3 linked regions of the Homo sapiens genome follow. The protein of the gene in region 1 purifies or fractionates together with the protein of each later gene. This does not show direct contact. Each region holds a gene or a part of one and is shown in the gene's direction. Other genes may lie near its edges.

Evidence for each region. The genes of interacting proteins can lie anywhere in the genome.
Region 2: the proteins of ZC3H7A (region 1) and BTBD9 purify together in Homo sapiens (affinity purification with mass spectrometry; one large-scale study listed by BioGRID and IntAct). This does not show direct contact.
Region 3: the proteins of ZC3H7A (region 1) and ACADL purify together in Homo sapiens (affinity purification with mass spectrometry; one large-scale study listed by BioGRID and IntAct). This does not show direct contact.

What each region holds. Positions count from the first base shown.
Region 1 is NC_000016.10:11,773,259-11,776,758, reverse strand, and holds part of ZC3H7A (zinc finger CCCH domain-containing protein 7A), read left to right. Parts: coding exon 1-8; intron 9-226; coding exon 227-307; intron 308-400; coding exon 401-439; intron 440-805; exon of another isoform or gene 806-1,352; intron 1,353-1,745; coding exon 1,746-1,779; intron 1,780-2,239; coding exon 2,240-2,523; intron 2,524-3,500. UniProt on the Homo sapiens protein: May be a specific regulator of miRNA biogenesis. Binds to microRNAs MIR7-1, MIR16-2 and MIR29A hairpins recognizing the 3'-ATA(A/T)-5' motif in the apical loop.
Region 2 is NC_000006.12:38,637,130-38,641,156, reverse strand, and holds the start of BTBD9 (BTB/POZ domain-containing protein 9), read left to right. Parts: upstream 1-1,227; 5' UTR 1,228-1,357; intron 1,358-4,027.
Region 3 is NC_000002.12:210,204,948-210,208,447, reverse strand, and holds part of ACADL (long-chain specific acyl-CoA dehydrogenase, mitochondrial precursor), read left to right. Parts: intron 1-2,651; coding exon 2,652-2,816; intron 2,817-3,500. UniProt on the Homo sapiens protein: Long-chain specific acyl-CoA dehydrogenase is one of the acyl-CoA dehydrogenases that catalyze the first step of mitochondrial fatty acid beta-oxidation, an aerobic process breaking down fatty acids into acetyl-CoA and allowing the production of energy from fats.

The sequences.
Region 1 (3,500 bases):
TGCCTCAGGTATGGAATTTATAGTTTATTTGTTTACATCGTAACCATTTACATCATAATAAATGGCATTTAAAGAGTTAAATTTTCCAGTCATCCATCAACCTGCTTCAGTTGGGTATAAATGCTAATGAAGCAGGTGTCTTGATGGGAAACTTCCCTGTTTTGTCTATTCTTCTTCACCATTAGTAAATATAACCCTGTTAATTATACATACTTATTTTTTTCAGGATGAGCATGTAATAAAACTAACTCAAGAACTAGCTCAGAAATTGGGATTTAAAATAAGAAAAGCGTATGTCAGAGCTGAGGTAAGCTGGAGTTCTCTGCATAAGGTGTTTTCATTTTGTTTTAGAACTTGGAGTCAGTTCTGTTTTTAAATTAGTGTCTTTATTTTATTTCAGCTCTCATTAAAATCAGTTCCTGGGGATGGGGCTACCAAGGTAAAGTTATTTTTTCTGTCAAAATTATATTTTTTTTTAAAGGGAAGGATGGGAGCAATTCTACTTTTAGTATTTTTGGTGTGTGTTTATTTTTGGAACCTTTTTAATTCCTCAAACACGTAATTGGCAATACCCTCCTGTCACTTTATTTATTTTTTTGAGACAGAGTCTTGTTCTGTTGCCCAGGCTGGAGTGCAGTGTCCTGATCTTGGCTCACTGCAACCTCCACCTCCTGGGCTCAAGTGATCCTCCCACCTCAGCCTCCCGAGTAGCTGGGACCACAGGCACACACCACCATGGCCTGTTAAATTTTTGTATTTTTTGTAGCGATGGGGTTTCACCATGTTGCCCAGGCTGGCCTCAAACTCCTGAGCTCAAGTGTTCCTCCTGCCTTGGCCTCCCACCAAATGCTGGGATCACAGGCGTGAGCCATCTCTTCTGGCCTCTTCTAGTCACTTTACAAAAGAACATCTACAACTCAAGTAATATATTTTAGCTGTAACCAGCATTTCCTGAATGCTCCAGTGGGGCATTTTATAGGATGTTAATAGATGTTAGGTTTCAGTGCAATAAGAGTGGTTCAGGGCCAAATACTAGTTTTGGGAGTCATTTGTGATAAAATTAACAAAGGGTTTTTTTTTGTTTTTGTTTTTAATTTTAAAATTAAAATTTTCTTGGGGCTAATAGGATGCTAATGGCTATTGTGAGTTGGGCAATGATTGGTGGCCAAATTCATCCCTGTTATTCTGCTGAATAGCCTTTGAGAAATGCTGGTCCACGAGAAATAAGTGGCAGCACTGCTAGACCAGCACCTCACCTAACACCACATGTATACAGGTTTGCGTGTTCCATTCATTTCTTGGATCTTAATTGGGAGTTGAATTTCTGTGGAAACCTGCATTGTTCTCTTAGGGTGAGTTTTTTCTTTTTTTCTTTTTTTTTTTTTTCCAAGACAGAGTCTCGCTCTGTCACCTAGGCTGGAGTGCAGTGGCGCTATCTCAGCTCACTGCAGCCTCCACCTCCCGGGTTCAAGCAGTTCTCTTGCCTCAGCCTCCTGAGTAGCTGGGATTACAGATGCCTGCCACCATGCCTGGCTAATTTTTGTATTTTTAGTAGAGACAGGGTTTCACCATGTTGGCCAGGCTGGTCTCAAACTCCTGACCTCGTGATCTGCCTGTCTCGGCCTCCCCAGGTGCTGGGATTACAGGCGTGAGCCACTGTGCCCGGCCTAGGGTGAGTTTTACTGATTGTTTTATGGCTTAGAGTCCTGAAAATATTATAACCCATTGTTTGGTTTAATTTCTAGGCTTTGAACCATTCTGTGGAAGATATTGAGCCAGGTATGTTTTCACATATCATCTTAACAATTTGAATAGTGCCAGCTTTGTACCTGATGTCTTTGTATGTGATGTATTGTCAAATAATATCGCTGTGTGGTTATATTCATATTAATGTATTAATATGAAAGTGAAAATGATTTCCAATGCTCCCTTTGTGCCTTTGGATGTGCCAGTGAGTGACTGAAAAGTGTTGGATGTTAGTAAGCAATCACTGACACCCACTGTGGCCTTGCCACTGTCTGATAGCTGTGCCCAAAGAGAGATACAGGCATTTTGTGAAAGAAGGATAAGTTTTCACACGTGACTGTATCTGTTTGGAATTGCTTTACTATACTGTCAATTTTATTATTTTTATAATTGCCTTCATATTTTCATCTTTGTATCTCTATTATTGGGGATTAATGGTATTATTATGTAAGTACGATGAAAGTGACTGAGTACATTTCCATCTGTGTTACAGATTTATTAACTCCAAGGCAAGAAGCAGTTCCTGTTGTCTCTTTACCGGCACCCAGTTTTTCTCATGAAGTTGGAAGTGAGCTGGCCTCAGTTCCTGTTATGCCCTTAACTTCTATTTTGCCACTACAAGTGGAAGAGAGCGCTCTGCCATCTGCAGTGCTGGCAAATGGAGGAAAGATGCCCTTCACTATGCCAGAAGCTTTTCTAGATGATGGAGATATGGTCCTTGGAGATGAACTAGATGACCTGCTTGATTCTGCACCTGAAACTAATGAAACTGTTATGGTAAGTTTCAGTGTTACTCAAGTTTCTTCTGAAGACAGAGTTAACTTTTTAAAAATTGTAATATAACTTGATAGACTTTTTCAGTATTGCATATAGGCTGAATTTGGGGGTTTTTTTAACCTTGAAAGTTACTTTTTTTCTTCTCTACTGAAACTGGTTAATTTGATCATTTTGAAATAAAAAAAGAATGCTATCTAGTAATTAGCCAATTTTTTTCCAATTCATATTGGGATCTCATATTATGGAAAGGGCAAAGATAACATTCTGATAAAAAATAGGCGTTTGATATTTAAGAAAAAATGAATTATATAGATTAAAGACTTCTTATTCTTTTTATTTATTTATTTTTTTTTGAGACGGAGTCTTGCTCTGTTGCCCAGGCTGGAGTGCAGTGGCGCAGTCTTGGCTCACTGTAAGCTCCGCCTCCCGGGTTCACACCATTCTCCTGCCTCAGCTTCCTGAGTAGCTGGGACTACAGGCGCCCGCCACCACGCCTGGCTAATTTTTTTGTATTTTTAGTAAAGATGGGGTTTCACTGCCTTAGCCAGAATGGTCTTGATCTCCTGACCTCGTGATCCACCCGCCTCGGCCTCCCAAAGTGCTGGGATTACAAGCGTGAGCTACCATGCCCGGCCTCAGGACTTCTTATTCTTAAAGATAATCCTCTAGCAACCACATACTTTAAAGCGGGGTTCAGCCAACTGTAGCCCACAGGCTAAATCTGGCCTATTACCTGTTTTTGTATGGCTTGCAAACTAAGAATATTTTTTACAATTCTTAAATGGTTGAGAGAAGAACAAAAAAGAGAATAATATTTTGTGACATATGGAGATTATATGAAACTAGCCTGGGTAACCATAGCAAGGGCACATCTCTACAAAAAATTAAAAACAGCCTGGCATAGTGGTGCGTGCCTGTGGTCCCACTGCTTGGAAGGCTGAGGGTAGAGGATCACTTGCGCCCAGGAGGTTGAGGCT
Region 2 (4,027 bases), on another chromosome or scaffold:
GTGCTGTGAATTCTACCACCTTAATGGCGCTAACATCTATCCCCTCCTCTATTCCCACTGCCAATGCCTTGTTTAATGTTCTTATCACTTGTCTGGAGTACTGCAATGGCCTAAAAATGGGTCTCCCTGCCCCAAGCCTTGCTTTTCCTGACCATTTTCACTTTCTACTTTTACTCATGAAGCTTCCTTTGCCCGGAATTAAGTCCTTCCCAATTTGTCTCCTCCAACAACTGCAAGGGCGGTCCCCTAGCTTGCTCCAGCGTCGGGGATAACTGACTTTCCTACACCAGCTACAGTCAGACCTGCACCCGGATTTCTAGGACTCTTATCTATGTAGATAGATAAATACATTTTTTTGAGACAGTGTCTTGCTCTCACTGCAGAGGCTGGAGTGCAGCGGCGCGATCACGGTTCACTGCAATCTTGAACTCCCCAGGTTCAAGCGATCCTCCCACCTCAGCCCCCCGAGCATTTGTGACTACAGGCGCGCGCCAACATGCCCATTTAGTTTTTGTCTTTTTTGTAGAGACGGGGTTTCACTATGTTACCCAGGCTGGTGTCGAACTCCTGAGCTCAAGCGATCCGCCCACCTCGGCCTCCCAAAGTGCTGGGATTACAGGCTTGAGCCACCAAGTCAAATGGGCTTTATACTTACAAAGTACCTTTGCATACCTTATTTCATTTTCACCTCACAATTCTCCAGCGTAGGCTGGACCGGTATTATTATGCCCATTTACTGAGAGAGGAAACTGAGAGTCAAGGCTGGGCCAGTCACACCCTGCTGCGAAATTAACGAGCATCACTTAGCAGCCTCGACATTAACCGCGCTCGCGCTCTCATCCCTTTCTGGTCCTACTCCTTGGAGAACCTTCCTGCACCTCCAAGAACTTGCCGATCGGGTCTGCGGCGGTCTGGACGAGGTCACTCCACAGGCGCCCAGGACCTTCTCATCCGTAGTGACGTGCGCCGGTGACGCCATACAGTGACGTGTGGTGACTCGACTTACCCGGAGCCAGGTGCCGGCAGGGCAGCCACACCCTGGGGCCCCCTGTTCTGGAGGGGCAGAGGGTCGGGCCGATGCGAAAAAGCCGCGGAAGCTGCCTTAGGCGACTTTCTGGGCCTGCATCGCCGGACCCAGCAGCCCGCTGTCGATCGGTTGCTAAGTGACGCCAGCGCGCAGTGGCGCGTGCGCGGCCACGGCGGAGTGCGTGAAAGCGGACGCGCGCCGCAGCAGCCGGGGCGGCGGCGAGGACGGCGGCCACGGAAGCGGCCAAGGGGGCGGTGGCGCAGAGAGGGGTGCGGAGCGGGCGGAAGAGGCGTCTGTGTCGCAGCTTGGTCTCAGAGGAGCATCGCTGGGGTGAGTAGCCGGGTCCTTGCAGGGGAGGTGGGGCCTGGCCGCACCTGCGGCGCGGGGACGCGCGCCCCCGCCGTATCCGCGCGCACCGCCCCCCGCCCCTCCGCCGCTTTTTCCGGGGGCGGGGGAGGAGCTGGGACGGGGCCTGACGAGGGTCATTTCTTGGGCCCGGGTGCTCTGGGAGAGCGGTAGCCGTCCCGTTCGCAGTCCACGAAGGTGTAGTGGGAAGTAGACGTTTCGGGGATTCGGGGTGGCTCTACCAGCCTCCCAAAGAGAGGAGTTCGAATCAGGGGCAGCCCAGGTTCCCTAGCAGTCTCGTATCCTGTCTGAGACGACGTTGCCTGGGACTGAGGAGGCGAAACCCGGGACCCCGGGGTGGGGGTTTGGAAAGTTTGGGACTGCTGGGGCCCTCATCTCCCCTGCCCTGGCCAGCCTCTGAGTAGGAGCTGGTTGTTATGGAGAGAGTTGTGAATCAGTGCCTGCGTGCGGCATCAGACACACCCACGACCTTGGGAGGGCGACCTGTCAGTATAGATCCGGGGCAGCCAACCTGTTGCCTAGAGTTTCTAACTTCACATGTATGTGCATGTGTTTCCTTGGCGTTTTAGTACATTGTTGTTACAGATTTTGAGACCAAGGTGCTGATAGGCATCCTCATTTCTTACTTCCTCATAGACTTAGTTATCTTGCTATATTTCCCAGAACCGTGTTGTGCTTTTGTCATTAGTAGATCCAAGGAAGTATGGAAGCATGTTTTGTTTGTTTTTCCTAAAGGCAGTACAGGCTGCTATTTTCTGGGCAGAAAATACGGATTCTGTTCACTGTGTGGGCGGAAAGTGTTGATGATGGGAGAACCCAGCATGTAAAGGTGTAGCTCATCCTCAGCCCTGTGCTGTCTTCTCAGTGCTCTGGACTCTATCATGGGTAGATGTATAGGGGTTGTGGTTACCATACTTGGGAGCGAGGAATATTGGAGACAGGGAAGAAGCCAGTCTTTTCTTTCTGTTGATTAAGGCAATTTGTAGAACCAGTGAAAAGATAGGCTGTACTGAAATCTAATGTTTTGTGTAAGAGGATAGAGGAAAATAAGTTCAAGGTTCTCATTTAGGTCTAAAATTCTATGATTCTGTTTCATAACTGAGAATCTGTAAAGTATGTTACCTCTTGGAACCAGTAATAACCTTGCTTTGTAACACTTATTAGATTACTCGGAATTCAAAGTGTCTTCCTCCCTCCACTGTAATAGCTTTTAGGACAGGAGTCATCTGTGTTTTCCTCCTTGCCCTATGTCTAACACATAGGAAAAATGTGCTTGCCACAGAGTAGGCATGCAATGGATATTTGTTATATAGCACACTATGCTCAAGTGGTGTATCTATGTATAGAAAGCATTGAGTTCAGTCCATCAAGTACTTAATACATGTGCCTCCCTCTGCCCAGTATCATGATAGGTGTGGGAGGAGGATTATGGAGTGAAAAATGACATAGAAGACCTGTCTTTTTTTTCCCTTTGAGAGCAGTAGTCTAGCTAGGAGATGTATAAAATAATTATAAAACCAAGTTAAGTAGCAGGTAACCAGTGCTGTTTGAGGACTATAAATGTGGTAGAAAATCAGAAAAGATAGGATGTGTAGGCTGAGTTAGGGAACTCTTTGAAAGAGGCAAGATTTGACTTGGTCTCTGAAAGAAGTTAAAATTTGTTAGGAAATAAACCAGGAGCTGAGAAAATAATAATGTGAATTTGGTTGTTGGAGGATATACCAAGACGACTTTTATGTCTGGTAACTGGAGCGGAACGTCTCTTATAGGGGAATACTGGAGAGAGATGGCTTAGCAGGTTGGGAAGGCAAAGTGTTAAGGATTAAGGCGGGCTTATCAGCATCCCACTGTTAACAAGATACAGCCTTCTTGTAAGGTGGGATAGAGGTTGTATTAATCAGAGTACAGTCTTTGACAAGAATAAGTGTTATCCTTACTTGAAAGTAAAGGATATTACGCTTGAACCAATATCAGGTTGTTAATATACTTTTGATTTCAATTACTAATTGGAATCGATGCCTCACTAATGTGCATGTATTTTAGGTAGTCAGTGGTGCATGTCTCATTATCTAAAATCTACCTGATGTACTTGGGCCATTGTATTGGAAATTTACTGAAATGATGTACCAATAGTCATCCAGTCACACTCAGTGACATAGTTTTGCTTGGGATTATCTCTCTGAGGTTTGTCTTTACTGCTGATCCTGTAAAATATACAAATGTTAGTTGGGAAAGGAGTCTTTCTGATGAACGATGCTTAAAAATACTGACCAAAGAGATTTCAGAATAATTAAAGACCCTGCTGCTGAATATTGAACCCTTGGTCTTTATTTATAACATCTTCTGTTATGTGAAAATTCTTTTGAGTGGTATGTAAACCTGAAGTTGAATTGCTAACCAAGATGTGTAAAGTTACAACTGCAAATGTTGCATTATTTAACAACTCAGCAGATACTTACTGGGTGCTGGCTATGGCGAGACACTTCGTTGGGTGCTGGGAAGACAAAGAAGTTAAGACACAGTATATGCTCAGCATACTAAGTGTTCATCAGAAGAGATAAACCACTAACCATTATGTGCTGTGACAAATTAATCACTTTTGGAATGAATAATGTGCTGGGGGAGTAGAGTGCT
Region 3 (3,500 bases), on another chromosome or scaffold:
CAAGGAAAATTCTCATATAACTCTATTAGAAAGGGGGATCCACCATGGTGTTTAAACTCACTTTAGGTCGCACTGTTGTAGAAATGGTTCAGATTTTATTAATCCTTTGCTATAATTACTTCCAATAAGAACTTCTGGAGAACTCCACTTGATTTACCAAATTGAGCTCAGCATATTAAAATGAATAGTTTTTGCCCAATGAATTTCTCCTCCCTTCCTTTCTATTCCATTGTTTATTTATTATCTGTAGTTAAAACATGTATGAGACCATTTGAGAGCATACTGTAGATACTAATTCCTGGATGCTGTGTGATGCAAAACAAACAAAAAAGCACTCATAGCATTTCAACTGTGGCAGCTATACAGACATTAGGAACTAGACAGAAAGGTAGGAGCTTGGTAGACTTATAAGGTTTTTGAGCAAGGGAGTCGTGTAATGGAGCAATACTGTTGAAAAAATATTTTTGCCAAGTTGTATAGAATTTTTTTGAGGAACATCTTTTTCAAAATATATTTTTAAAACATCCTTTGGCCTCCTCTGTGCCAAAAAGAATTCTAAGCACTTAAGATAGATATATGAATAGGAAATGGCTATGAGCTCCTAGTAAGGAGGCACGTTGATGATCTTTTATTATTGTGTCACCTATAACCATACTGCCACCACTATATTCATTTGCTGTTGTGTAGACAACACTAACATTATTTGCCCATTTTTCATTATTTGTATGTATCAGTGCTGTGCATTTTAGGTGATGGGAGTAACCAACATCATTTTATACCCCTACTATTTCAAAGAGAGAGAGATAAAAACAGATCATTTTGGTAAATTTGAGGTGTTGTAGGACCGCTTAACCCAGCCTGGAGAATTTGAGACCTTTTGGCCAATCTGATGTCTAAACCACCCAGGATGAGTACAATTCATTGCAGCAGAGTTGGGAAAGGGCCTTTCCCAAGTAGCAGAAACAAGATTTTCAAAGACTCATAGGTCAGGAAGACCTCGCAACGTGATGGACAGCAAGTAGTTTAGTAGAGCTGACTGAAGAAGAGGAAATTGGGGAAAGTGGGACAAGCAATAAGCCAGGTAAGGAGAGGTAAGCTAGTGCCAGTTTGTGATAAGTTTTCTATTTCCTGCTAAAGGTTTTGAATTTATCCTGAAGCCTATTAGGAGCTATTCAAAAATTTTTAAGTGTGAAGGTGATATGATCAGATTGCATTTAGAAAAATCTCTTTGACATCATGATGAATGATACAGCTGTAGAGAGATCAGTTGTAGGAACTTAAGAAATGATGAGGGCTGGAAATAAGGTAATTACAATAGACTTGAAAGGAAGTGAATAAATTCCAAAAGTATTAAGATGGGTTAGAAAAAACTAGATGCTGAATTGAATATGAAGCAGGATGATAATGTAATTTATTGAAGCATTCATTGAGATAGGGAAATAGGTTGATAATCAGGATTGGATAGGAGTAGGGGTGGGAAGGAATATGTCCTGCCCATGAGTCATCAGGTGGAACTATCCAGAAGCAAGTACTTATTCAGGTCCAGGTCCTATCAAGAAATGTGGCTTACCAGGAGTTTGAGGCTGCAAAGAGCTATGGTCACACCACTGCACTCCAGCCTGGGTGAGAGAGACCCTGTCTCTAAAAAAAAGAAAAGAAACATGGCTTAAATAAAGATTTGGAGACATCAGCATGTAGAGGGTGACTCAAGCCGTGAAAATGATTGAGATGAACCAGGAAAGATGCAGAATGAGAAGATAATTATTAATATTTGCTCTGAGTATACTGTTTTCTGTATCAATATCATCTGATAATCCCTCTCATTTGGCTTGTCATTTTTCCCTCCTTAATCATAGTTTCCTATTTAGACCATTTTAAAGGAAGCAGGATATCAATTACAAAAATCAAAAATAGTCCTTTTCAAAAACTGATAAATCTGAGAATAAATAATATAGTGCCATTTACAGCAGATTTTCTTTCTTTTTATTTTTCTTTTATTTTCTTTTCTTTTTTTCTAGAGACAGGGTCTCACTCTGTCACCCAGGTTGGGGTGCAGTGGTACAATCATAACTCACTGTAACCTCAAACTCCTGGACTCAAGCGATCCTCCTGCCTCAGCTTCCTGAGTAGCTTGGACTATATATAGGTGCACACTACCACATCAGCTAATTTTTAATTTTTTTGTCTCTACTATTTTGGCAAGGCTGGTCTTGAACTCCTGAGCTCAAATGATCCTCTTGCCTCGGCCTCCCAAAGTGCTGGGGTTACAGGTGTGAGCCACCGGGCCCGGCCAGATTTTCTTTTCTTATCAGTGGCTTCCTTCTAAAATACAATTTATCATCATAATAGACAATTTGGTTTCATTTTTAAAGAACATAATAATCTCTGTTTATTATTATTATGTATAATATTAATAGTGAAAAGAAAATCTATAGGTTTCATTCTTTGAAGCATTAAGTAATTTTTCCCCTGATCCTTGATAACATCATGTGTGAATAATCAACTTTGCAGATATTTGGGTAGGGTACAGAGAGAGGTATCAAGCATGTCTTGTCTGTTTTAGTTTTCTGTAATATACTTTCTCCCAATCATAACTTGCACATAGAATTGAATTATCATGGTGCATTAATAATGTACTTGGGGTTTTGCAGGTGTTCATCAGTAATGGGTCATTAAGTGATGTTGTGATTGTAGTTGCGGTCACAAATCATGAAGCTCCCTCCCCTGCCCATGGTATTAGCCTTTTTCTGGTGGAAAATGGAATGAAAGGATTTATCAAGGGACGAAAGCTACATAAAATGGGATTAAAAGCCCAGGTGAGTGATAATGTAAATCATATTCAGATACTAATTGAGTTTACTGTTAATCAGATAGGAGACTTACATAGAGGATTACATGTGGCACAATTTTATTTCCTATGCTGAATTCCTAAAATATGCTTTTCTGATGTGGTAATGAGATTTATTCTCATTTATACCACTCTATCTTTCTGATGGTCAGCAATAGAAATGAATCAAGGTATTTTGAATATCTGTTTTAGAAATGGCAAAATTAACTGCATGGTAACAAGCCATCTATTTGTAAAATGCATTAAAGAAAAATATGAAATAAAAATAAAGTGTGGCCAGGCACAGTGGCTCACACCTGTAATCCCAGCACTTTGGGAGGCTGAGGCCAGCGGATCACCTGAGGTCAGGAGTTCAAGACCAGCCTGGTCAATATGGTGAAACCCCATCTCTACTAATAATAAAAAATTAGCTGGGTGTGGTGGCAGGCACCTGTAGTCTCAGCTACTCGGGAGGCTGAGGCAGGAGAATCACTTGAACCCAGGAGGCAGAGGTTGCAGTGAGCCAAGATCACGCCACTGCACTCCAGCCTGGGCAACAGAATGAGACTCTGTCTCAAAAAAAATAAAACAAACAAACAAAAAAAACCCAGAAAATGTTCTTTCTATACATTACCAAAAATGCATGTTTTGCTTAATATGTATTAGAAATCCT